2 separate regions of the Homo sapiens genome follow, and region 2 is linked to region 1. The links come from fine-mapping of genetic effects on gene expression. A gene starts in region 1. The other region holds a variant in brackets. All regions are shown on one strand. Distances are between the middles of the regions.

Region 1 (9,939 bases):
GAGGGCTGGTGCCGGGACTCCACGACAGACGAGCAGCTATTCAGGTGGTGATAGGGAAGCACAAAACAAGGAGAGGGGCTCTGGACTCTGGGCATCAGGCAGCCAGGGCAGGAGGCTGGGGCCTCAAGGAGCTGTTTCAGTCTAGATACTGGGAATGTTGACCAGTGCTTCAGGGCTGTGGGCCTCAACTCCTCCCCACCCTGCCCACCCTCAGGTGTGAGCTGTCAGTGGAGAAGTCCACAGTGCTGCAGTCTGAGCTGGAATCCTGTAAGGAGCTGCAGGAGCTGGAGCCTGAGAATAAATGTGAGGCCCCATTCCGTGAGAGTCTGCTCCCAGAGCCCGCTGAGGAAACCCCTTTCCAGTGTGGCCCTGAGAGGACAGCAGGAAGGCCTCAGGAGGATGGGAGCAGAGGAGGTTCCAAGAGAAACCCTCCTTTTCCCTGCCCTCTCCTCAGGGTGCCTGCTTACCATCATCCTGCTGATGCGGGCACTGGACCCCCTGCTGTATGAGAAGGAGACCCTGCAGTACTTCCAGACCCTCAAGGCAAGTTCTGTCTGCAGAACAGACCAGGGGGAGGCCCAGCAGGCAGGAGGCAGGCAGCTGACATGCATACCCTGCCCACCTCATCCACTCCAGGCCGTGGACCCCATGCGGGCAACGTATCTGGATGACCTGCGCAGCAAGTTCTTGCTGGAGAATAGCGTGCTCAAGATGGAGTATGCCGAGGTGCGTGTGCTGCACCTGGCTCACAAGGTATGGGCTGCCATGCATGCCTTCCCCTGGCCCTCATCCCGCTGGCCTCCCCACGTCCCTGACTTTGCCCCCAGTCTCAGGTGCCTTTGTGGACTTCCAATCAAGATAGAGTTCATCCCTGCCTCCCAGCTTGCTCCTCTTCCAGGCCTTTCTGTCACTCAGCCCATTCTTCTTCTTGCCACTCACTTTCAAATCCCGAGTCACCAGGACCTCCTTGTGCTGTTTCTTCCCCAGGCTGGTCACAGCTTCATCTTCCTTCAGAGTGACCGCTAGCCCACTCCTCCCACACATTCCAGCACATCTCACCCTGGAGCAACCTCCAATACCTGAAGGCCAAATACTTTCCAGAGATTCCTGAGAAGTTGTCCAGGCTCCACTTTCCTAGTCCTTCCCAACACATTAGTTTTATCACATCACCACAGCCCACCTCCATTCCTGCCAAACTCATCTCTGCCTCATCAGGACCAGTCCCCATGGGGGACCAGTCTTTGTTTACCCAGCACCCTCCACTGGCCCCTGTACCTCCGAACTCCAGGCCTCCTCCTCCTCACCCACCCCACTGGTTACCCCACTCGCAGCACTGTCTGTCCCACGTCATGTACTGCTGTGGGCTGTAAGGTCAGCTTCCCACATGCTCCCATCCTCTTCTTGGCTGGGGTCCCCAAGGGCCTGTGGGGCACAGAGGGCATGTGCCTAATAAATGCTGGCCGAGGACCCTCTCCCAGGTCTCCTGGGAAGCCCATCACCTCCTTCCTCCCTTCACCCCCCAGGATCTGACAGTGCTCTGCCATCTGGAACAGCTGCTCTTGGTCACCCATCTTGACTTGTCACACAATCGCCTCCGAACCCTGCCACCTGCACTGGCTGCCCTGCGCTGCCTTGAGGTAAAGTACCCATGTCTCCGTCCCTGTCACGGGTGGTTCTTTTCCTCTTCCTCTCCCTCAGAAGTCTGCCCATCCTACAAGGAGATGTGCAGGACCCTCCACCCCGAACAGGTAACTGCGTGCCTTCCACCTCCATCACGCAGCCTGACCCTGTGAGCCCCTCTGTGCTCTGTGGACCCGTCACCCTGAGCTCCTCAGTTGCTGAACCATCCCTGGCTGACAGCGCCTGTCCTGCCTCCCTGCCCTCCCTGCCCCCAGGTGCTGCAGGCCAGTGATAATGCCATAGAGTCCCTGGACGGCGTCACCAACCTACCCCGGCTGCAGGAGCTGCTACTGTGCAACAACCGTATCCTTCCTTCTGGGTGCCTTTCAGACAGTGGGTAAAGTGAGGTGCCACCCTGGGAAGGGACAGACAGCAGGCAGGGTATGTGCCACCCTCTTGCAGGGCAGGAGAGAGGGGGCTCTGTAGTGTGAGTTGAAGGGGGAGAGCCTGGGGCTGTCGGGCTATCACTGACCTGCACTGGTGGAGTTGTGCGGAGTGGACTTCCTCAAGTCAGAGTTCACAAATGGGCAGCCCGCAGCTGTTCTTCAGGTCTATGTAGTTTTTTGAAAATCAGGAACTTTCATACTTTAAAAAACATCTAGAGTTCTAATTCCTCTCTTAAAAATTGGAAGTTAGAGCAACCTTACACTGGTATTTTCACTCAGCAGCCCTTGGTCATTGCTGAATAGTAAATGTCTCTTTGGACCAGGCTAGATTTCCACCTTATCATACCCTGCACCACTCCCCTGATACTACACCAGCTTGCGTGGGGTGTTGCGGCTCATTCTTTCCTGGCTGACCCTGTGGGTAGGCATTTGCAGTCCCTGCCTAGAGCCTGACTCCCTCCAGGGAGCATATGAGATGCCCATCAAACAGACTTCCAGGCAGCAGTCCCCAGCTCTTGAGGGTACACAGGAGCAAATAAATTGGGAGGAACCTGCCAAGCTTTCCTTGACTCTCCTGAACAAGGCCTCCAGCAGCCTGCAGTGCTCCAGCCTCTTGCCTCCTGCCCCAGGCTGGTCCTCCTCAACCTGCAGGGTAACCCGCTGTGCCAAGCGGTGGGCATCTTGGAGCAACTGGCTGAACTGCTGCCTTCAGTTAGCAGCGTCCTCACCTAAGAGGCCCTGCCCCCTACCCTTGCCCTTTAACTTATTGGGACTGAATAAAGAATGGAGAGGCCCTCTCAGGCTACCAAGCTGTTGTCGCTGCTATCACTACACCACCACCTTCATCACTTTTATTTTTTGAAAAGAAAGGGAAGAGACATGGGGTGTTGCCAGCTCCTTCTTTCTGCGCCATCCTATTGTTTCCTCTCAGAGAGAGCCAAGGCTTCAGTGTTTGGGGCAGAATTCAGGGTGAAGGCTGAGCTTTTGTTTACCTTCTGGTTTGGGGTGGGGGCTGGGACTGGGTCTAGATTCCAAGCAGGAATAGGGCTTGGGCTCAGGTTCTGGCTCTGGTAAGCTACAGAGCAGCTGTGAGTTTCTCCAGCTGGAAGCATCATACAATTTTTTCCCATGACCCCTGCACCTTCCACATGTTCCCCCTGCCCTGGCCCCCATTCACCATAGCTGGGGAGGCTCAAGGGCTCCACGTTCCCAGGAATGGGCCAGGGTGTCCTTGCTCCGTCCTGCCTGAACAACACTATCGGTCCCCATGAGTAGCATTCTACGGTTGAAGTACCTTTGAGAATACTTGATACCATTTGATCCTCACAGAGTCTCAGGGATGAGATTTTTAGGCCCAGTGTACTGATGAGGAAACTGCTGTTGAGACTTGCCCAAGGTTCTTGGCCGGAGCGCTTCAGCACTGAAACCAAAGTTGTCTCTACCCTTGGTCTAGGATTCTAGACTCATGTTCTTGCTTCTGTATTGCTAAGGAATGGTTGGGCAGCGGCCTGGCCTCAGCTCCTTGAGGTCCTGAGCTGAGTGTCTGCTCCCATGGTGTCCCCCCACACATACCATGTACACACCTTGTCCTGACCTAGAGAGTCCTGAGTGGTGGTGGGGGGAGGGGACTGGCTCAGGGGTTAGGGCACTGACTCAAACCTGGCTGGGTGGGGAGAGAAAGATTGATTAAAGCTAGGGAGAGAGTGTGACAAAGGCATCCTACTGGTTCTCTGGGATCTGCCTGGGCCCACATGTGCTCACACACGTCCGGACAGCCAGGGCCCTGCCCCTTCCCGTATCTGCAGTGATGCACAAATCCGCAGCCCCTGCACAAAGCCCTCTGGCTGACCTGCCTGGAAGTTTATATCCACTGGTGTGTCTACTGAGGGTGTTGGAGGTGGGGCACCTGCCCCCACCCCCGGGCAGGTTCTGGTGCTTGGAGCTGGACAAGAAAAGGCAGTGTGGGTGTGGAGGGCTCCCTGCCAGTTCCTGGGGCCTCTCTGTCCCCACTCCCCACGGCACCTCCCTGCCTGATGCATCACCAAACAGCCCCTCCTGGATTCTGTTTCCTTGTGTCTTCTTGTCGGCCTGTTTTTACTGTCTTCTGCTAGGCGGCCCATGGGCAGAGCTGGGACACTAGTGGGAAGGAAGGAAAGAAGGAAGAAGGCCCTGGCTGACGGGCCTGAGGACAAGACCCAAGGAGAGCCTCCCTGAAGATGCCTAGCCTCCTCCTCTCTACCTTGGGATCGCCTTGGTGCCATCCTCAGTGTTTCCCCAGTGACGGGGTGGAGTAAGGATGCACACAGCACAGGTGCCTGAGCCGGTTGGTCTGGATTCCCAGGAAGAATTCCAGGTTGGAGAAAAGGGAATCCTCTAGTCCAACTGAGCAGAGACTCCTCTCAGTGAGAGAAAGGTACTCTGTACCCCTGGAAGGGGGACTCAGTTCCCACCCAAGCCTGAGTGGAAAGGCCTAAACATCCCCTAACCCCCGAGGCTACAGCGGGGGTGGGGGACGTGAAATGAGATTGCTCCTACTCTGATCTCCCTAATCCCAAACTTGAGGGCAGCTCACTCATGCCTGGGGCTGTAGAGCAGCTGAGAAAGAAGGGACAGACTTGGGGGTGGAGGGAGTCAGAATATCTGGTAGAGCCAGCAGGTCAGGGGTTAGCTGGTGGAGCCAGTCTGAGGGCCTGGCTGCTGATGTCACCAGTCTGCAACCTGGGATCCCAGGACCTCCCTGGGCAGGATGAGTTCCAGGACCAGGCCCCTGGGCCAATTTCATAGGGCTGAGCCTGGCTTGGGCTGCACAGAACTCGGCAGCAGGAGCCTGTGAGAGCAGAGGTAGGCAGCCTAAGCTTGGGACCAGAAGGTCGGCCAGACAGGGCTGTGGGTGGAAGGGCCTGCCTGCCCCACTGCCCTTGCAGCTTCTTCATCCGGGAGAAGGGGCTCCTCACATGCCCAGTCTGGTAGGAATCAGCCTGGTGCCAGGGGCCATCACAGCGGTGGCTCCCACCAAAGCCCAGCCTAAGCCCCCAGACCTCACCCCTGCTCCCTCCCTAGCATCTTCTCCCCATTTCCCGCCCAGAGGCCTGGCCTCTTCTCTCCGCCCCCTACAGCAGTTTGGCCCCTCCCTCCCACATAAGTCACTTACCAGGTCTGTCCCTGCGGCATCCAGTCTGTGGGTCCTGTCCCATCCATCCTGACCTGTTCCATCTCAGCCCCAGGACTCAGTACTGCGGTTGCCAACACTGCTGCCAGGTGAGGGGCTCCCACGGGTACTGTGGTGCCGAGTCCAGGCGGCCCACACTATCAGAGGCCGTGCCTGGATCCAGCAAGGTGGGGTGTGGGCCAGCTGTGTACCTGTCAGCCCCAGCTAGGCTGTTCCCAACACCAAGACTCTGCTTTCCCTGTGCACAGGCTCCGGGCACCTGCCATGCCCTACCCCTCCTGGCAGCCCCAAGTGGGGTCTTCCCTGACTTGGGAATGCCAAGGACCACAGGCCCCGGGGTCACTTGTCTGTCTTGTGAGGAACCTTGAGTTGGGGGATTTCTGCTAAGAAATGAGTTCTAGAAGCTGTCAGTGTTGTGCACCTCTAGACTGCAGAGCTAGCAGGTGGACGGACCAGGCCCAGGGATGCTGGAGCACTCTGATGTGTGTGCAGCTGGGTCTTGAGGCTGGGACAAGTGTCCATGCAGGGAACTATGTGGATTTCCTGGGATGGATCGTTGAGTGGGTTTCTTCATTGGGCAGTTTTTCGGATGTTGTTTGGTGGGGGTGAGGGGAAGGCTTTTCTCTGCAGCATGAGAAGCTTCTCTGGGTGAGTCTGAATGGTCTTCGCGGAAGGTCTCTGGATGTGTCTGGAGAATCTCTGGGCCAAGGTGGGATTGTTTCGGTCATCGGGTGGGACTGAATCAGCTGTCTGGATGGAGGGTTTCTGGGTCAACTGGCTGGGACTACCTGGGTTAAGGAGCCACCCTGCCTCTTCCTAACAGGCATGATGGATGGGCCACGTTCCGATGTGGGCCGTTGGGGTGGCAACCCCTTGCAGCCCCCTACCACGCCATCTCCAGAGCCAGAGCCAGAGCCAGACGGACGCTCTCGCAGAGGAGGAGGCCGTTCCTTCTGGGCTCGCTGCTGTGGCTGCTGTTCATGCCGAAATGCGGCAGATGACGACTGGGGACCTGAACCCTCTGACTCCAGGGGTCGAGGGTCCAGCTCTGGCACTCGAAGACCTGGCTCCCGGGGCTCAGACTCCCGCCGGCCTGTATCCCGGGGCAGCGGTGTCAATGCAGCTGGAGATGGCACCATCCGAGGTGAGGCCGGTCTGTCCTCCTCAGCTGAGAGCTAAAAGGCTTTAATGGGACCAGAGACTCAGCCTGGCATTTCTGGGGGGGATAGGAAGCTAATGATAAGGGCCTGGGCTCCTCATGGGGCTTCACTGACACGGAGCTGTGTCCTTGCAGAGGGCATGCTAGTAGTGAACGGTGTGGACTTGCTGAGCTCGCGCTCGGACCAGAACCGCCGAGAGCACCACACAGACGAGTATGAGTACGACGAGCTGATAGTGCGCCGCGGGCAGCCTTTCCATATGCTCCTCCTCCTGTCCCGGACCTATGAATCCTCTGATCGCATCACCCTTGAGTTACTCATCGGTCAGTGGGGCTTGGATTGGGACGGGTGAAGGCCCTATGTTTGGTGGGGAGAGGCTGGCATTAGGGTCAGAGAGGTCTTTAGGCTCCTCCCTGCCCCACTCCTCACCTCTGCCAGATAAGGCAGGTGCAAGTGTGTGGGTGTGCCCCTGGGGTTGTGTCTCAGAGAGGGTCTTGGTGTTGCAGTTTTTCCCAAGCCCATCCTCCTCAAGCCTCCTGGGGCATCGGTCTCAGAGTACTCCTCTTCAGGGCCTGCCTCGGTGCCTCCTTCGGCATTGCTGCTCTGTCCTTTGTGCATCTGTTCTCATTCCCCAGGATGTGGCTGGTTCTCTCTTCTATCTCTCTCTCTCCCTCTTGCCTTCCATGTCCCCCATCTCTGCCAATTCTGTCTCTCTCTGTCTCTGTCCCTCTGTCCCCATGACCCAAGGCAGGTGCCTCCCTTACCGCGTTGCTTGGTGTAGCTTGACTTCTCAGGCTGGTGATTATGCTGCTGCCTGGGGCAGGTGACTCCTTTTACCCTTTGATTAGGGCCTAACCTTGCCCACCTCATCCTTTAATTTCCCAGGAACCCCTACCACCTCCACCAGGGATGCCCTGGGCTCTGGAAGCTGCAGCCCCAGGAAGCAGGCAGGGTTGGCCTTCAGGATCAGGACTGCCCTTTCATACGGGGCAGGTGGATCTGCCCCTCCAGCCCAGGCACTGTGATAGTCAGGCAGGCAGAAGGTGACAGGAGCCCTCGTCTCTCCTCCCCACCTCAGAGTTCAGTGTCAGGGGAACAGGTTTGGGATGTTGGACTGCGGCACTGCCCTAACATGTGGGCAAGCATTGGGTGGAGACAGAGCTGCTCTAAGGGAGACTGTCAGAGAATAAGGTGATGGCCCAACGTAGGGACATACACAGTGGCTCATACACATTGTGGGTGGGGCCGGGAGAAGTCCCAGGCTCCATCCCCTCTCCTCAGGGAGGCCTTGCCAGCTAATTGCTGATTTCCTACTCTAGGAAACAACCCCGAGGTGGGCAAGGGCACGCACGTGATCATCCCAGTGGGCAAGGGGGGCAGTGGAGGCTGGAAAGCCCAGGTGGTCAAGGCCAGTGGGCAGAATCTGAACCTGCGGGTCCACACTTCCCCCAACGCCATCATCGGCAAGTTTCAGTTCACAGTCCGCACACAATCAGACGCTGGGGAGTTCCAGTTGCCCTTTGACCCCCGCAATGAGATCTACATCCTCTTCAACCCCTGGTGCCCAGGTGAGCAGCTGGGGTCTGGAGCAGAGGGTAGATGGGAGGGAAAGACAGGGAAGGGCTTCCTGCCCTCGGATGTGGCGGGGTGCCTAGGTGCCTGACCCCAGGAGAAGCCAGCCTCCCATTGGGCAGATGAGAGGACCGAGGCCTGGTGCAGAAAGGTGGCCAGCCCAGGGTCACACAGCCAGCCACACCTCTCCTGGCAAAGGCCCCTGGCTACAGCCAATCTCCTCCACCATCTGTCATGCTCCCCGTGTCCTCCCACAGCAGTCCTGTCAGGCTAGGGGCATCCCCGCATTTTCTTCTGTGGACATGAGTCCTGCAGAACTGGCCAGAAGTAGGTGAGGCCCAGGGAGAGAACTGGAGGGAACCAGTTTTGTGTGTTCTGGGGACACAGAGGACATTGTGTACGTGGACCATGAGGATTGGCGGCAGGAGTATGTTCTTAATGAGTCTGGGAGAATTTACTACGGGACCGAAGCACAGATTGGTGAGCGGACCTGGAACTACGGCCAGGTATGGTGCGGCTGGCCAGGGTCACATACACCCAGAGGAGCTGGGGTGGGTGTGGGGGCTGGGGTATTGGAGCAGGGTGCTGGCCTAGGGTTCAGGCTGTCACCTCTGCCCTCCATCCCTCCTTCCAGTTTGACCACGGGGTGCTGGATGCCTGCTTATACATCCTGGACCGGCGGGGGATGCCATATGGAGGCCGTGGAGACCCAGTCAATGTCTCCCGGGTCATCTCTGCCATGGTGAGCACCCTCACATCTCTGAGTCCTACTGTGTGTGTGCCTGCTGCCTCGCCACACCCCCACCCTCCTCCTGCCCTTTCTGGATTCCTCAAGAACCCCCAGCCCTGTCCCTGCCCTCGTAAAGGATACTTCAGGAAGGGGTCTCCCTCCTCTTCTCTCCCTTGCCTGCCCCCCACCCCGCCTTTCCTGGCTCCTGTCCCAGCTCCTGTGGAATGTAGGGCCAAACCCAAAACTTGGCACACCCAGGATTCACATTCCTGTGTCAGAGCCCGGGTGGGAGGGGGGCAGATGGCTGAGGGAAGGGCTGGGTGGAGCTCAGGCTGGTGTCTGGATCCTGAGGCATTTAGGGGTAAGGGGTGGTTGCAGGATCGGGGCCCGGCTGGTCCCCATGGACCACATGGCAGGTCCTGAGCCCCTCCTCCACCTCCGCCCTATCTCATCCTGTCCTGGGCAGGTGAACTCCCTGGATGACAATGGAGTCCTGATTGGGAACTGGTCTGGTGATTACTCCCGAGGCACCAACCCATCAGCGTGGGTGGGCAGCGTGGAGATCCTGCTTAGCTACCTACGCACGGGATATTCCGTCCCCTATGGCCAGTGCTGGGTCTTTGCTGGCGTGACCACCACAGGTAGTGGAGGGACTGGGACAGGAGTGGCCCGGGCCCTACAGGGAGAAGGGAGGAAAGCCAGGCTTACCCAGCCCTGCCCAGATGTGGCTACAGTGCAGGGTGCAGGCGGGGGTGGGTAATAGGCTGGCCTTAATTATCATTAATTAGTGTTAACAACAGAGAGAGGCCTAAGGGAAAGGAGGGAGAAGGGACAGGCAAGGACTGAGCCAGGCAGGTGGCCTAGCTTCCCCTGACCCCAAGTGCTCTGTAGCCCAAAGGCCTTGTGGCCCCCGTGGCCCTGACCCTGGCAGTCTATGCCCAGCTTGGCAATCCTAGTTGCCCTTCTCCCCCTGATACTCCTGACACGATGCCTCACTTGCCCCCAACCCATGCCTTGAACCCCAACCTTCGCTCCTCCACAGTGCTGCGCTGCCTGGGTCTGGCCACCCGTACTGTCACCAACTTCAACTCCGCCCACGACACAGACACATCCCTTACCATGGACATCTACTTCGACGAGAACATGAAGCCCCTGGAGCACCTGAACCATGATTCTGTCTGGTGAGCTGGGGTGGACTGCCCATCTGTGCTGAAGAATGGTGACCTGAGCTTTGGAGGTGGA
Region 2 (15,653 bases), 720 kb after region 1:
CTGCTATAGCAGCCAGCTAAGCGCAGGCCAGTGGCAATGGTGGCGAGGGGGGTTGGGGTGGGGGGAGGGAAGGGGGCGGGGGCAGCGCGTAATAAAGTCCAGTTTAGCTACTCTGGAGTTTTAGAGGGGATCTAATACCTCCTGGCATGAACGTTGAGGGTAAGAGTGGGTGAGAAACTTTCTGTCAGAGAATAAAGTGGTATTTTGGCCAGGAACTAAAGATATGATGGTATTTCAACAGTTGGAGACCTAGATGGAGACAGGAATAGCCTAAGCAAAGGCCCAGAAACTGGAGAGCACCTGGGTGGTACGTAAGGAGAAGACGAGGCTAGAAATGCAGTTGAGGGAAAAGCCTTGAGTGCTAGACTGAGGAGTTTGTCAGAGTTTCCAGCGGTCCCTAAGCAGTTTTTGTCAGGTGTAGAACTACTTATGTTCATTTAGAATACAGAAAGGCCGGTGCGGTTGCTCACACCTGCAATCCCAGCACTTTGGGAAGCCGAGGCAGGTGAATCACCTGAGGTCAGGAGTTCGAGACCAGCCTGGCCAACATGGAGAAACCCCCCCGGCCCGCCGTCTCTACTAAAAATGCAAAAATGAGCCGGGCATGGTGGCGCGTGCTTGTGTTCCCAGCTACTCCAGAGGCTGAGGCATGAGAATTGCTTGAACCTGGGAGGCAGAGGTTGCAGTGAGCTGAGATGGCGCCACTGCACTCCAGCCTGGGCGACAGAACGAGACTCCATCTGTCCCCAAAAAAATAAAATTCAGGAAAACATGGGGGTTGGCCCTTTGAATGCTTTGGGAGACAAAATATTAATAGAGATGATTCCTTCTTACTCCCTCTGAGGACTATGGTTATCTGGAGACTCTAACTATATGTCTGACCTTCCATGTGAGGAAGCTCCCTGAGGAACCGTGGCTCTTAACTCCTGGACTCCTTCCTATGATGGGTGAGAAGTGCCATGTTCTCAACACCTGCCCTCTCACCAGTATGTTTCTGGAAATACATGACCAGTGAGAGGTATTATAGGGAGAAGGACACTGGTTTAAAGACATGGCATTTTGGCCAGGTGTGTTGACTCACACTTGTAATCCTAGCACTTTGGGAGGTCGAGGCAGGAGGATCATTTGAGGCCAGGAGTTTGAGACCAGCCTGGGCAACATAGGAAGACCCTGTTTCTACAAAAAAAAAAAAAAAAAAATTTTAATTAGCCGGGTGTGGTAGTGCATGCCTGTGGTCCCAGCTGCTCAGGAGGTTGAGGCAGCGGGATAGCTTGAGCCCAGGAGGTCAAGGGCAGTGAGCTACGATCCTGCTACTGCCTGCACTCCAGCCTCGGCAACAGAGCAAGACCCTGTGCATAAATAAATAAACAAATGGCATCTTGAACTTGGAGTAGCTTGGGTCAACCTCTGTCCCCACTCCATGTTAAGCACTGTTGGTTAGGGAGAGAAGAAACCCCAGCTCCTAAAGCCTGCTTTTCATCCATCTTTTGCTTTCCGGTTTTGTTAACCTGGGATGAAGACCTAATTTTTCCTTATGTTATAAGATCCAATCCAGTGGGGCAAAAGCAGCAGCTTATTTGAACAGAAAGACCAGTTTCCGGAGCCAGACCTGAGGTCGACTCCCAGCTTCACTTTCTAGATGTTTGGCCTTCCGCAAGCTACTCCACTTTCCTAAGCATCTGCTTTTTTTTTTTTTTTTTTTTTTTTTTTGAGACAGAGTCTCACTCTGGCGTCTCAGCTCACTGCAACCTCTGCCTCCTGGGTTCAAATGATTCTCCCGCCTCAGCCTCCTGAGTAGTTGGGACTACAGGCACGTGCCACCCCACCCTCCTAATTTTTGTTTGTTTGTTTGTTTGAGACGGAGTCTCGCTTTGTCGCCCAGGCTGGAGTGTAGTGGCGCCATCTCGGCTCACTGCAAGCTCCGCCTCCAGGGTTCATGCCATTCTCCTGCCTCAGCCTCCCAAGTAGATGGGACTACAGGTGCCCACCACCATGCCCGGCTAATTTTTTGTAATTTTAGTAGAGATGGGGTTTTACCCTGTTAGTCAGGATGGTCTCGATCTCCTGATCTTGTGATCCACCCGCCTCCACCTCCCAAAGTGCTGGGATTACAGGTGTGAGCCACCACGCCCGGCCTGTTTTTGGTTTTGAGACGGAGTTTCACTCTTGTTGCCCAGGCTGGAGTGCAATGGTGTGATCTTGGCTCACCGCAACCTCTGCCCCCCGGGTTCAAGCGATTCTTCTGCCTCAGCCTCCCGAGTAGCTGGGATTACAGGTGCCCACCACCACGCCCAGCTAATTTTGTATTTTTAGTAGAGACAGGGTTTCACCATGTTGGTCAGGCTGGTCTCGAACTCCTGACCTCAGGTGATCTACCCACCTCAGCCTCCCAAAGTGCTGGGATTACAGGAGTGAGCCACCATGCCCGGCCAGCCTCTGCTTTTTCATTGAGAAAATGTGGCCTGCCTCACAGTTACCTGTGAGGATTCAGTCATAAACTGTCACATAGTATAAACTCAAAATGTTCATTTATCTCTCCTTTTTGTCATGTGAACTTCAGGGTTTTGTTGTGTTGTTTAAGAGAAGTAGGCTATAGCAGTTAGTATGGGCCCTGGAGCCAGACCATGGAGGTTTTTGAGTCCTGGCACTGTCACTTACTTATTGGCCATTGGACCTTGGGCCTGTTAATTCACTTGTTTGTGCCTTAGTTTCCTCAATAAATGAGACTATAATAGCATCTACCTCATGCTTGAGGTATTGAGAGGAGTAAACAATGTATGTAAAAGTGCTTGGAACTGTCCCTGTGCATTCAAGAAATCTTAAAAATTATTATTAGAATACAGGAGCGGCCGGGTGAGGTGGATCACCCCTATAATCCCAGGACTTTGGGAGGCTGAGGCCGGTGGATCACCTGAGGTCAGGAGTTCGAGACCAGCCTGGCTAAGATGGTGAAACCCCCGTCTCTACTAAAAATACAAAATTAGCAGGGCATGGTGGTGGGCACCTACAATCCCAGCTACTTGGGAGGCTGAGGCAGGAGAATCACTTGAACCTGGGAGGTGAAGGTTGCAGTGAGCCGGGATCATGCCACTGCACTGCAGCCTGGGCGACAGAGTGACTCTGTCTCAAGAAAAAAACAAACAAACAAAAAAACGGGCTGGGCGCGGTGGTGGTTCACACCTGTAATCCCAGCACTTTGGGAGGCCGAGGCAGGCGGATCACAAGGTCAGGAGTTCGAGACCAGCTTGACCAACGTGGTGAAACCCCGTCTCTACTAAAAATACAAAAATTAGCTGGGTGTGTTGATGCATGCCTGTAATCCCAGCTACTTAGGAGGCTGAGGTAGGAGAATCGCTTGAACCCGGTGGTGGAGGTTGCAGTGAGCCGAGATCGCACCACTGCACTCCAACCTGGGCGACTGAGTGAGACTCCGTCTCCAGAAAAAAAAAAAAAAAAAAAATTCAGGAGCACTTAATAAGCGATAAACTGAAGATGAGGAGGAGCCCGAACCTCCCCCAACCCAGCTCAGGGGACTATGTAACCGTGTGGAGGAGGCAGAAGCTCTCAGAGACTAAAGAGTAATTGCTGCGGTAGAGAAGGTTCTAGTACCCAATTTCGCGGGGGGAGATGGGGGAGGCGGAATAATAAGGCAGGAAGAAGAGAATGAAAAAAGGAGGCCTTGGGCGGCTCAGGGCTTGTTCTGAAGCTGATTTAAAACAAAACAACAAAACACATGTATGGTTTCTGCAGGCCACAGGATGAAGAGGAGAGGAGACGGAAAAGAGTTTAAAGGGGCCTGCCCTCTTTGCAGGCACCGGCTTGAACCTGGAGGCGACCTGGTGGGCTGGCCGGCCTGCCCCCGGCCCTGGGTCCCGCGAGGCAGGCGGGCGGGCGCGAACAGACTACAACTCCCGGCATGCGCCGCGGCGGGCGGGTCGCTGCACCTGCTCAGTGGGGCAGCCCCGGGCGCCTGGGTATTGATTATTCCATTGTGTGGGACGCCTAGACTCCAGCCAGTGAATGAGGCGGAGGAGTGAGGGCGAGGAGGAGGAGGAGGAGGAGGGCGAGGAGGAGAAGGAGGAGGAGGAGGAGGAGGCAGGGAGCGAGCGAGTGCCCAGGGTGAATCAATGGAAACCCCCTCACGAAGCCGGGGAAACACTTCAGCCGCAGCCAAATAGCATTGATTATTTTCCTTCACTTCCCTCACCGCCGTGAATTTATTTATTTATTTTTTTCCGTCTCCGTCCCTGACGCCCCGGAGCGAGCGCTGGAGGGAGGGAGGAGGAGGGGAAAAAAGAGGAATCAACACATCGGAGAAGTCCCTTCCAAGAGCCGCCCCCTCCCCTCCCCGCCTCGCGCTGCTCGGTGGCCGCGGTTCGACTCCCGTCCCTGCTTCCAGCTGAGGTGTAAGTGCATCGATTTCCGATGCTGCTGGGTTGGTTTTTTTCTCCTCTCCCTCTCTCTCTTCTTCCCTTCCTTGCTCTTTGGAAGCTCGAGACGGGAGAGGAGGCGCTTGGAGACTGCCGCTGGAGGGGACGGAGAGGGACGGGAAGGGGCTGGGGGAGGGGACAAGGACGGACGGACAGACAGACCGAGAGCCCTGGGAGATAGCAGACAGGGGTGTGGGAGGAAGAGGGCGTGCGCGAGGATGGGGGAAGAGAGATGCGGGGGTGGAGGGAGAAACGGGAACGGGAAAGGCAGAGGCCCGCCGGACAGACGAAGGGTATGGAAAGCCTAGACGGACCGCGCCGAGTTGGGCAGGGAGCGGGGATCCCGGGGGGAAGGGGAGGCCCGGTGAGTGTGAGGGCTCAGAGCTGTCAGCCTGGAGGGTCCTGGGTCTCGGCGGCCCCCCGCCGGCTGTGGGATGGGAGAACCGCGGCCGGCGGGCTGATGGATGGGCTAGCGCGCTGGGGCGTGGAGTGGGAGGGGACGTGGATACTCTCAGTCTTCGTTCGTTTTTGGCTGAAGTTGGGCTTTCCATTCCTTTTTTTGAAAGTGTTGAGTAGGTGAGGGGAGGCCATAAGCCCATTCAAGGTGAAGCGTGTCTGTCCTGCACGCCCATCCTACCACCCCCATCCGCTCGTCTGCCCCTCTGAGCAGCCCTATCATTTTCAAGCACAGGACCACGCTTCCTCGCTGTGCCTGTAGCCCCGCTGATCTCTGTCCATGTGTCCCTGACTTTTGGTTTTGCTGTTCTTCATCTTGTCTCTTCCATCCCATCCATCTCTGGATCTGTATGTCACTGTCTCCACTTGTGACCCTTCCCATCTGAGTGATCCTCTCCTTGTGTGTCTCTATCACTATGTGTCACGCCTTGGCTGCCTGTTCTGTCGGTCTAGGATTCCATGCCCTCTCCTTCAGAGTCTGTCTGGATATCTCTGGCCTTTTCAGGCTACTTTGGAATTTGCTTATCAGTCATGATTGTGGTGGTCACAGTCAGGGCCTGGAGGAGTGGGATGATGGAGCAAATGTGTCTTCGCCAAAGCCTCTAGTGCCTTCAGCATGGCCAGGACAGCCTCCTCTTCCACCATCACCAGAGAAGCTTTGGAACTTCCTAGCATTGTTGACTGTCCCCTTTGCCATGTGCCTGTCTCCCTCATCAGAACCTCACCTTCTGGTCTCATGCGTGTCATCTGCCTTTCCAGGAGCTTCGCACAACAAAACCTCTTCCCTGCTGACTTAATTTTACTCCCTTCCCCCACTGTATCATTGTATATTTTTTATTTCCCCATTTTGCTTCACCCCTTTTTTCCATCTGTTTCCCATGAGCTCTGAGTTTCCACCTTTGTTCCCATAATCTGCCCTCTTCCTACCTTTTCTTCTTGATCACCCTAAGTTTCTAGTTTCTTTTATCCCTTTTCCTCTTATCCAGCATTTTAACCCCAGCAGCAGAAAGTACCAGCAAGCAAAGGGCTGGGAGAGGTGTGGGGTATGGTTTGTGAAGGCACATAAACAGGCCAAGAAATAAATTTAATGAGCTTCCAGGGGCATATAACCCCTCCATCAGTCAGTGCCATTATGTCAGTTAACTGTCAACTTTGATTTTGTAAGGGGACATTCCCTAGGACTCTAAGCTCCACCCTGCCTGGTTGCCCCCCATCCTTCAGTTCATTCTAGATATCAGTTGCTTTTTCTTCACTTTTTAGTTCATCTTCTTCCTAGGCCCCTGCTACTATCATATTTAGATCCAGCACCATTTTTTTTTAATGAGGCAGTGTTTATTAGTGTAATAAAAGCTATCGTATGTAAGGAGCCAAGTTCATTTAGCCTGAAGAACAGTAAGGGTGGATAAAGGATCTGGAGAGTTTACCTTAGTTTTTAGCCCATCATTGTTTTTCCAAACCTCAGGAGCTTGGAAAGGTAAAAGGAGCAGGCAGACATGGGCAGAAGATGGACGATTTCAGAGGTGAACAGAATTAAAGAAAGAAAGGGGTGGTCGGTGCAATAAACACATGGGGTAGAGAAATGTATGACGTGAGGGATGTGCAAAGGAAGGGAGGAAAATCTATGCGGACTCGGGGGCAGGGGAGGAACCAAGGGGTGATTAATAAGAAATTGGAAGAATGAAACAAAACGTGTTGATAGCAATACAGAAGGTAAAAGGAAGAGAAATGATAGAATATTCCTAAAGTGGAGGTCAACAGAAAAAGCACTATGAAATTAATACAGTAGTAAAGAGGGGGAAGGGAGGAATTGCTGAACAAGATGAGATGGGAAGAGAGTATGGTACAAAGAAGGTAAATGGATGGCAAACGAAGGAGTGCTGAGGCAGATCAGAGCTGCACAGAGCTTGGTAGGAGGAAAAGAGGAGAGGATGAGGTATCAAAGGAAACAAATGCCTCTGGTGTGAGGAGGACACAGCGTGACTGATGCGAAGAGAGCGAGAGCACTGCGGGGGCGCCGGGGGGTTGGAAAAAAAGCATAGCACAAATAGCAGGAATACCACTGGGCGAAGCCCCAGAAGAGAGAAATGCCCAAGAGAGGGAGAGAAAGCAGAAATATCCAGGGAAGAGACAGAGAGAGAGAGAACCTCACGAGCATTCATTTCATTGGCCTAATCACTCACTACCCCCACGAAAGGCCTTTGTATTTCATTCCCAAGCCAGAACACAAGCAAAGAGATGAAAAAGTAGAATTCCCATAAACTTCAGCTGAGAGGAACTTGAATCTTCCCAGCCCCTGAGAACCAAAGACCTCAAGCCTCTGATGTCATAAATTGCTGGTATTGCCTTGGCAACCTGACAGGGTTCCTCCCTCCATGATGTCAGAGGCAGCTGGTGTTACCTTGAGACCCATACAGGAATCACTTGCTGCTTTGCCGGGGTGCTGTATCACCTACGGGCCAGGGCCTGGGTCGAATTGGTAGGATTTCTGACTCTGGTAGCTTGACCTTGCCTCCCTGGAGCTCTTCCCAGCTCAGAACAACAGTTGTCACAAATAACTCCTGTTT[G/A]TGAGCACCTGAGGTTTGCTAGAGCCTGACAGTAGCAAGAGGAAGGAACCTAAGACAGGGCATTGAGGTCAGGATGGTTGGATCAAAAGGCAGGCAGAGACGGAAGAGGAGGACTAGAAATGGCAGTTACAGAATGTGAAAGGAGAAGGGCTTTGTGAGTGGGGAGGAGAGTTGTTGAAAGTGTAATGGCTTTGGGTTTAGGAATGGAGACTAAAGCTAGAATGCAGAGGGAAGGGATCGGGGCTGTGTGAGTGTAAACTCATTCAGGGATTGAGAAAAGGGAAGGGTTGTGAAATGCCAGAGGGCACAGTGGAATTTGGCTGTACAGAAAGGGGGGAAATGGGACAGAGTCCCCTAGTCTGAGAGACTTAGCTGTCTGGTGAGAGACTCAGGGTTAGTCACATGGTCATCTGAGGAGTGGCTACATCTGTCTAGTTTCCAATTGTTTTCCAGCACCTAGCACAGTGTCTGTCACACAGAAAAGGCTTAATAAATATCTACTGATCAAACGTTGAATTAGTAGGGAGAGGCTGGGGGAAAGAGTTGCCCACCTAATTTTCACCCACTCCCCCCACCTAAGTCTACATTAATGGGCAAACTGGGAAATCAGAAACCGGAGGGAATGGCTGGAGGGTAGTTAACCAGTGACAGTGAGATCTGAGGCAGACAGGAGAGACTGGGTTAGGGTCACACTTGGAGGCAGCCAGGGGAACTCTCAGGGCTCATGTGCAGAGTCTTTGTAGTGATAATTGGAGGAAAACATGAATGAACAGCCCTAGGAGCCCAAGAGGAAGATGTGGAGGAGGGAAGAGAAAGGAGGCGGTTTCCAGAAAAGGTTGAGAGTTGTTTCCAAAGAGAGAGTTGGCAAATGTGAATTAAAAGTAGCATCCCCACCCCATTCCCAATCATGAAACTACAATTGAATTGGTCATAACCGTATATATACAATGGCCGCAAATAAGGAGTTCATAAATCAATACCAGACCCATTCTAAACACCTATCCCAAGCCAGGTAATTATTAATACAACGAAGGCAGCATTGGCCATGTGGGCCAAAAGGCCAAAGGAGGGAGAAGTTACTGCTGCCCAGATCTTGATGTAAAGAACCCTGTGAGGGATGGCCTTGACATCTGACTCTCCATTGTTGAAAGACTCCAGAGGTATCTAGAAGAGGGGGAGGCAAGAGATGTAAAACTCACCACAACTCTCAGAGCAAAATCTGCAGAAAGAGGAGGTCTAAATACACAGAAGCTATAGAAAACAAACATGCACCCAATCAGGAATCACGAGGTGAAGGGCCAAAAAGCCCCTGAATGGGTTGAGAAATCTACAAAAGAAGACAGGGGAGAGAGCTGGGAGTGCTGGAGGACAGTCTGGCTATAATAAGCAAGGCCAGGGCAGCTAAAGAAGGGGCTGGTGGGCGGGGGGCCTGAAGGAAGGACAGTGGTGGCTGTTGCACTGTCAGCCACCGCCACGGAGTTGGGCAGCTCATATTTTGCAGCAAGCGACAGGCTGTCGACACAGTGGTCCTTTACCTCACCGTTAGAAACTCATTTCATTGATTTTTCCATCTTTCTTCTCGAGCTCCTCACACTAAGCTCGGTCAGCCCACCACCCACTTTCCCAGAGCCCCTTGCCTCTCTGGGGAAAGTCCTAGGGAACTGCCTGCCCATCCCTCCTCCCCAGGCTGGCAAGGCAGGGGTGAAAGATTTAGAAGTAACTTCCAGCCCCGTAGGGTAATCCCATGGGCTCTCAGTGGCTTCCTCATGTAGGAACTAGTCCAGAGACCAGGGTCCTCATGTGCAGTTGTTAAGGGGTGACAGGGCTGAGGTCCACCCACAGTCCTGTCACCAAGCTGTACCACTGGCATGGGGGCTGCATACACCTGGAGGAAGATATATTTTTCTAATTTCTACTGAGATGCTCAGCACCCCTCAGCATTTTTTACCCCAAAGTCTAATGAGAGAACAGGAGCCCTCTTTCTGTATTTGGCAGGAACACAGGATTACATCAAAGCTAAAGTTCAGGCCTTGGAATTCCCAGCAGGACCATCAACTGGAATGTCGCATGCACAGGGGCCTGTGCAATCAGAAAGACATGAATGTTCCAGGGTGTGCAAGACCTCTCTGCAGAGCAGTTTATGCATGGAGAGTCTGGTCCTGTGGAGCACGTTGATGTGCAAAGTCAGTGGGGCAGAATGGGTGTAGGCAGGAATTTAACTTCATGTATGCACATTTCCCTAGTGCCTCCTCCAGTCATAGCTAACTGCCCTGGACCTCTCCCTTTGGGGCTGGGCTTGGGCTAGAGGTCAAGAGTCAATTACCAGTCATTTGGCTTCTCAGTGAAGGAGGGCAGAGGGTGGGCCAAGAGTGTTAGATTGTGTTTCCCCGAGGACCTGATGGGGTAAACGCCATTTCCATCCTCAGATTTTTCATTCCTTGTTTTGTGATGCCCTTTTCTTTCCCTAATCTCAAGCCTCTGTCTTCTTTATTCCTGGGCCATGGGCATGGGTCTAGATTTTGCTGCTTCTCTTGCCTCCATCACAGTTGTCTGCATTTCCCCCCAGCCATCTCTGTGTTCTGTATCAGTGGTCTGCTTGGGCCACAGATGCCTTTCTTCTCATCTCCAGCTTCTTCAGGCTATGTGGTTTCCACAAACCTACAGATAAATCCTGCTGCTTTAGGGAAAGAAGTGCACTTGAAATTAGAGAGAAGGCCAGGGAAGGATGAGAAAGAGGTTCTGGAAAGATTAGGCAGGGAGAAGTTGGGAGAGAGTATGACAGAGATAGGAGTCAAAGGTGAAAAACCCATGACTTGGAGATGGGAGAGAGCACAGAGAGATGGCCACAATTTAAATGAGAAAGGAAGGAGTGCAGTAGGCTGTGAGGACTAAGAAATTGGAGAGCAAACAGGAAGCCTGACCCCTCCGCAGGGAAATGAAGACAGCTGAGGAGGGCGGACGAGTGGTTGTGTAAGAAGTAGGGCTGAAAAGCCAGGCCATGGTCTCGGCCTGCGTGTCAGTCCTGAGTTCAAGCAGTGCTGGCTTTGACCCTTATGGGAGGAACTGAAGTGGCAAATTAACGACGATAATGAAGTCACTGCTCCTTGTTTGTCTTTGCTGGTTTCCCCTTGAGATTTGTCCTTTGGCCAGACAGGGCAATGTGGGGGAGGGGAGGAACTGGAGCCGTGAAGGGCGGGGGAGAGGGAAGGAAAAGAGGATGGAGAAATGGCAATGTGGAGGACAAATTGACTAGAGGAGAAAAAAGGGAGGGTGATGAGTGAAGAGAAGAGGAGCCCAGAATCGAAGAGAGAAGCGGGAAGGGAGACATGAAAGGAGAATGAAAGAGGAGAGGGGTGCAGAAAAACGGCCAGGGAAAAGAACAATGGGGGACAGGAAAGGGAAACCTGGTAGGAGGAGCAGAAAAAAAAGGTGGGAGAAGGAGAAGTGGAATGGAGAAATGGCGAGCCGGAGGGAAAGAACGTGGCCAGGGCTGCAAAAGCTGCAGCTGGCAGGGCCAGTGGGCGGGGCCTCATCTCCATCTCTAATGGCTGTGAAATGAGGTTAGCGCCATTAGAGGCAGCGAGAGTGTAACGAGATCACACTCATTAGGGCTGGGCCATCCCAGTAATTACCACCACCCTAAACACGCCCGCGCCAGCCGGGCCAACCACATACGGGCTCACAGCAACACACTGAACAGGATACCCTACTACTGAAAGGGAAGCACAGGGCCCACACACGTGTACATGGAGGGCCTGGGAAAATCCAGCCAGGGAGAACAAGCACCTTCACCAACCCCAAAGAAGTACTGGGACAGGGCTACAGCCAGGTTACCAGCTGCCCCACATACAATCAAAAAACAACATACACATACCCCAACACAGGAAATAAGGCATATGGATGAATAATTATTCCATTTCCATTTATTGATACACCCAAAGTGCCAATCTCAATGATGATCCTCTCAATGGACTCAACTCCATGAGTTCCCCATTCCCTTTTTTTTTTTTTTTTTCTGTTTTCTGTTTCTGATGTGTTTGTTTTTAGACAGGGTCTCACTCTGTCACCCAGGCTGGAGTGCAGTGGTGCAATCTCGGCTCACTACAACCTCTGCTTCCCGGGTTCAAGCGATTCTTCTGCCTCAGCCTCCTGAGTAGCTGGGATTACAGGTGCATGCCACCACGCCCGGCTCATTTTTTTTGTATTTTTAGTAGAGACAGGGTTTCACCGTGTTGGCCAGGCTGGTCTCAAGCTCCTGACCTCCAATGATCCACCCACCTCGGCCTCCCAAAGTGCTGGAATTATAGGCGCGTGCCCGGCCTGCCCCATTCTCTATATGAAGAGACTAAATTGAGACTTTACGCAACTTACCTGAGGTCATTTACATATTAAGAAACAGAACTAGAATTTGATTCCAGGTCTGTCTGACTCTAAAGGCTATTTTTTTTTGTTTTTTGAGACAGGGTCTCCCTCTGTTGGAGGGAGAGTGCTTGTCTGATGAAGTTCATATGCTAATATGGATACACATGTGTAGACCTTCAACTTTAAGAGATGTTGTCACAAATGGGTACACATATCATTCAAAGAACACTACCCGCCATTATCTATCCCTTCCCTCCTGTTCCCACTCCCTCCCTCCCGCTCCTTCCCTTCCTTCACACAGGGCATGGCCAGTGCCCCTGCATGGACTGCAGTGTGAATGACGCACCCTGGAGTTGCGCAAAGCAGTGCTCCTCTTCTGGTCCATCTTATACTAAGAAACAAACCAAATGGAAGACAGCCATCTAGCACCTTCAGGCGGAACATGATAGCACATATGCTCAAGGTGACACACAGAGTAATACAATCAGACTCAAAAGACCTCATTCAAAATGCATACCAGCCAGAGTTCAGAAGCTTACAAATTAACCCAAGAGCAGAGGTACTGACATCAGGCTACCTGAGTTCCAATCTCAACTCTACTTCTTTTTAAGCAGGAGATCTTAAAAATTACTTAACCCATCTAAATCAGTCTCCATGTTTGTAAAATAGGAATGAATAGCTACATCTATTGCATCAGATTGAAGTGGAGGATTAGGTGATGTGATACTTGCCGAGGGCCTAGCACGGTGCCTGGCCCATGGCAAACATTTAAAGATGTTAGCTATTTACTATTATTACAATTAGTTTTTGTTGTAATACTATTTAAATGCAGTCATTACATCACACAGGTTCACAGAATAAAATAACCAGAAAGACTTATTTACATACACGGTCACTCAGAATGTTTTCCTTCCAGCCGGGCGCAGTGGCTCACGCCTGTAATCCCAGGCCAAGGTGGGCGGGTCAGGTAGTCAGGAGATAGAGACCATCCTGGACAACATGGTGAAACCCTGTCTCTACTAAAATACAAAAAATTAGCTGCTTGTGGTGGTACGCGCCTGTAATCCCAGCTACTCGGGAGGCTGAGGCAGGGGAATTGCTTGAACCCAGGAGACAGAGATTGCCGTGAGCTGAGATCACACCACTGCACTTCAGCCTGGCAACAGAGACACCATCTCCAAAAAAAAAAAAGAATGTTTTCCTACCAAGTTCTGGGAGACCAAATTCTTCAGCGGTCCCCCATGCAAGGATCAGATAGGATCCTGATTCTGAATTTAAGGGGACAACTCCCTGAGTGCTCATACAGAAGAAGGGTTCCGAGCTGGTTCGTGGTTGTCTAAGCCTGTGGTATGTAGAACGAGAGAACCACATCTAGCAGGATGTGAGTCTCTCCAGTGTACTATAAAATCACATAGATCTGTGCAGCAGAGCAGCTCCACACTGCTGTCCTAACACATCCAACACTTTCCAAGTCATCAAGGGAGATGCCTCCTCTCCTGGACACCCACCCCCATCAGTAGCAGACACTCTGCAGCACACCTCAGCAAATCCATGCAAATGTGAACGTGTGTGGTTTCAGCCTACCGCTTCCCTTCTCCTCCTGTCTGCTCCCTACCACCCCCATCTTCTTCCTGAGCCTACCCTTTTCTCCTCACACCTCACCCAATCTACTCATGCCCACCTTAAGCATCTTGCAAAGTGCAAGAGACAGCCTCCTTGCCACCTCCTTCTCACTGGGGACAGGCCACCATCCCAATCTGGTGCCAGAGCTGGGAGGCCTGGAAAAGATTCAATATATGCAAATCAAGACCTAGCTTCATCTTCCTCTTCACTTCCTTACCTCTCCCTCTCTCCTTCCCTTCTTCCTCCCTCCTCTTCTCTGCCTTAGCGATCTTTCTTTGCCCTTTACAACACTCCTTTTCCTGCTTGTCTCATTCCCTGCCATACTCGTTCTTTCTCTCTCTTTTGGACAAAACTTATTTGCACAAAGTAAGCTCTCCTTAAATATTTATAAAAGGGGAAGGGTCTAGAAGAGATAGGTAGAATTAAAAGGGAAGAATCAAAGTACTGTTTGTTTTCTTTTTAAATATAGAAGGTAAGATTTAGAGATGATAGAATGATAGTTTTAAATGCAGGGATGACTTGGAAAGGATCTTTGGAAAAAAGAAAAAAAGAAGACATGCAGGGAAAGGCCAGAATAGTTTTGATCCACTTATTAGCTGCTTCTGTCCAAATGTGAGCCTGGGCACAATTTCTACTCTTTGCTCTGGAATAATGGGTCTCTCTAGACCCAGCAATCAAGAGGGCTAAGAAGTGAACTCTATGGCTGAGTAGACTAGATTTAAATCCTGGCCGGGTGTGGTGGCTCAGGCCTGTAATCCCAGCACTTTGGGAGGGCGAGGTGGGCAGATCACCTGAGGTTGGGAGTTTGAGACCAGCCTGACCAACATGGAGAAGCTCTGTCTGTACTAAAAATACAAAATTAGCTGGGCGTGGTGGAGCCTGCCTATAGTCTCAGCTACTTGGGAGGCTGAGGCAGGAGAATCGCTTGAACCCAGGGGTGGAGTTTGCAGTGAGCCAAGATCGCACCATTGTACTCCAGCCTGGGCAACAAGAGCGAAACTCCGTCTCAAAAAAAAAAAAAAAAAATCCTGTCCATCTAAGATTCTGCCCTCAGTTGAAAAGGGCAGAGATTAGAGGATGAGTCTTGGTCAAGAAAGGGGTGAACAGAGGCCGGGCGCAGTGGCTCACACCTGTAATCCCAGCACTTGGGGAGGCCAAGGCAGGTGGATCACCTGAGGTCAGGAGTTCGAGACCAGCCTGGCCAACATGGTGAAACCCCGTCTCTACTGAAATACAAAAATTAGCCAGGCCTGGTGGCATGCACCTGTAATCCCAGCTACTCGGGAGGCTATGGCAGGGAGAATCACTTGAACCTGGGAGGTGGAGGTTGCAGTGAGCTGAGATCACACCATTGCACTCCACCCTGGGTGACAGAGCGAGACTCTGTCTCAAAAAAAAAAGAGAGAAAAAAGAAAAAGGGGTGAACAGAAGGAAAGCTGTCAGCCTCTGTGCAAACACCATGCTCCACTCTGTGACGGGAGACAGGAAAGAGAGAAGGAAAAGAACTACCCTCATTGAACACCCAGCAAATGCACTTTACACGTTACCTATCTGGTCTTCACAACTGAGTAAGGAAAATATCATTATTCCCATTTTCCCAGATAAGGAGACTAAGGCTCAATACGTAATTTCCCAGAGTTGCACAGCTAGTGAGTGATGGAGCAAGGATTGAACCTGGCTCTCTGTGTGTGGATCCAAAGCCCATGTTCTTCCATTGCCCTAAAAAATAGAGCTCATCTAGTTATAGTTTATTTGCTGTTTATACCAAACAATCCTCCATACTAGGGGTACACACATCTCATCCTTCCTGTTTCTCTTCCCCTTCTCTCCATGGTCACCTCCTCTTGTAATCAACAGGTTGAGACAAAAAGGGGAGGAAGGCGAGGACAGTGAGTATGGAAGGGTGCAATGCCTGAGGCAACAATTTAAGAGAGGAATTTTTAAAAAAAGGTCCTAAAATTGACTCTAAGGGAAAGTGGGTAGATTAAACAATTAGAAAAGTGAAAGGCAAAACTGTTAGGAAGGTTGGGCTTGGTGGCTCATGCCTGTAATCCCAGCAGTTTGGGAGGCCAAAGCGGGCAGATTGCTTTAGCCCAGGAATCTGAGACCAGCCTGGGCAACATGGCGAAACCTTGTCTCCACAAAAAATACAAAAATTAGCTGGGCGTGGTGGCACATGCCTGTAGTCCCAGCTACTGGGAGGGAGGCTGAGATGGGA

The links.
Region 2: its variant is fine-mapped to the expression of TGM1 in caudate (GTEx, PIP 0.97).

Annotation. Positions count from the first base shown.
Region 1 is chr14:24,258,474-24,268,412 of GRCh38, reverse strand. TGM1 (transglutaminase 1) reads left to right here and starts at 5,236. Exons shown (of 15, transcript NM_000359.3): 1 at 5,236-5,324; 2 at 6,059-6,379; 3 at 6,530-6,718; 4 at 7,715-7,963; 5 at 8,355-8,473; 6 at 8,602-8,709; 7 at 9,164-9,338; 8 at 9,740-9,878. The coding sequence starts at 6,061. It overlaps RABGGTA (Rab geranylgeranyltransferase subunit alpha), which reads left to right. Exons shown (of 17, transcript NM_182836.3): 11 at 1-44; 12 at 215-303; 13 at 455-543; 14 at 637-753; 15 at 1,524-1,637; 16 at 1,896-1,983; 17 at 2,650-2,875. The coding sequence ends at 2,798. RefSeq lists enhancers at 4,753-4,761, 9,262-9,939 and promoters at 2,731-5,248, 3,631-5,297, 5,858-6,053, 4,308-6,061, 3,061-6,061.
Region 2 is chr14:23,540,096-23,555,748 of GRCh38, reverse strand. ZFHX2 (zinc finger homeobox 2) reads left to right here and starts at 3,984. Exons shown (of 10, transcript NM_033400.3): 1 at 3,984-4,406. It also overlaps a transcript of THTPA not described here. RefSeq lists enhancers at 1-98, 3,631-3,680, 4,530-5,192, 7,316-7,939, 9,812-10,436 and a silencer at 3,811-4,050. The variant G/A (reference allele first, on the strand shown) is at 7,451.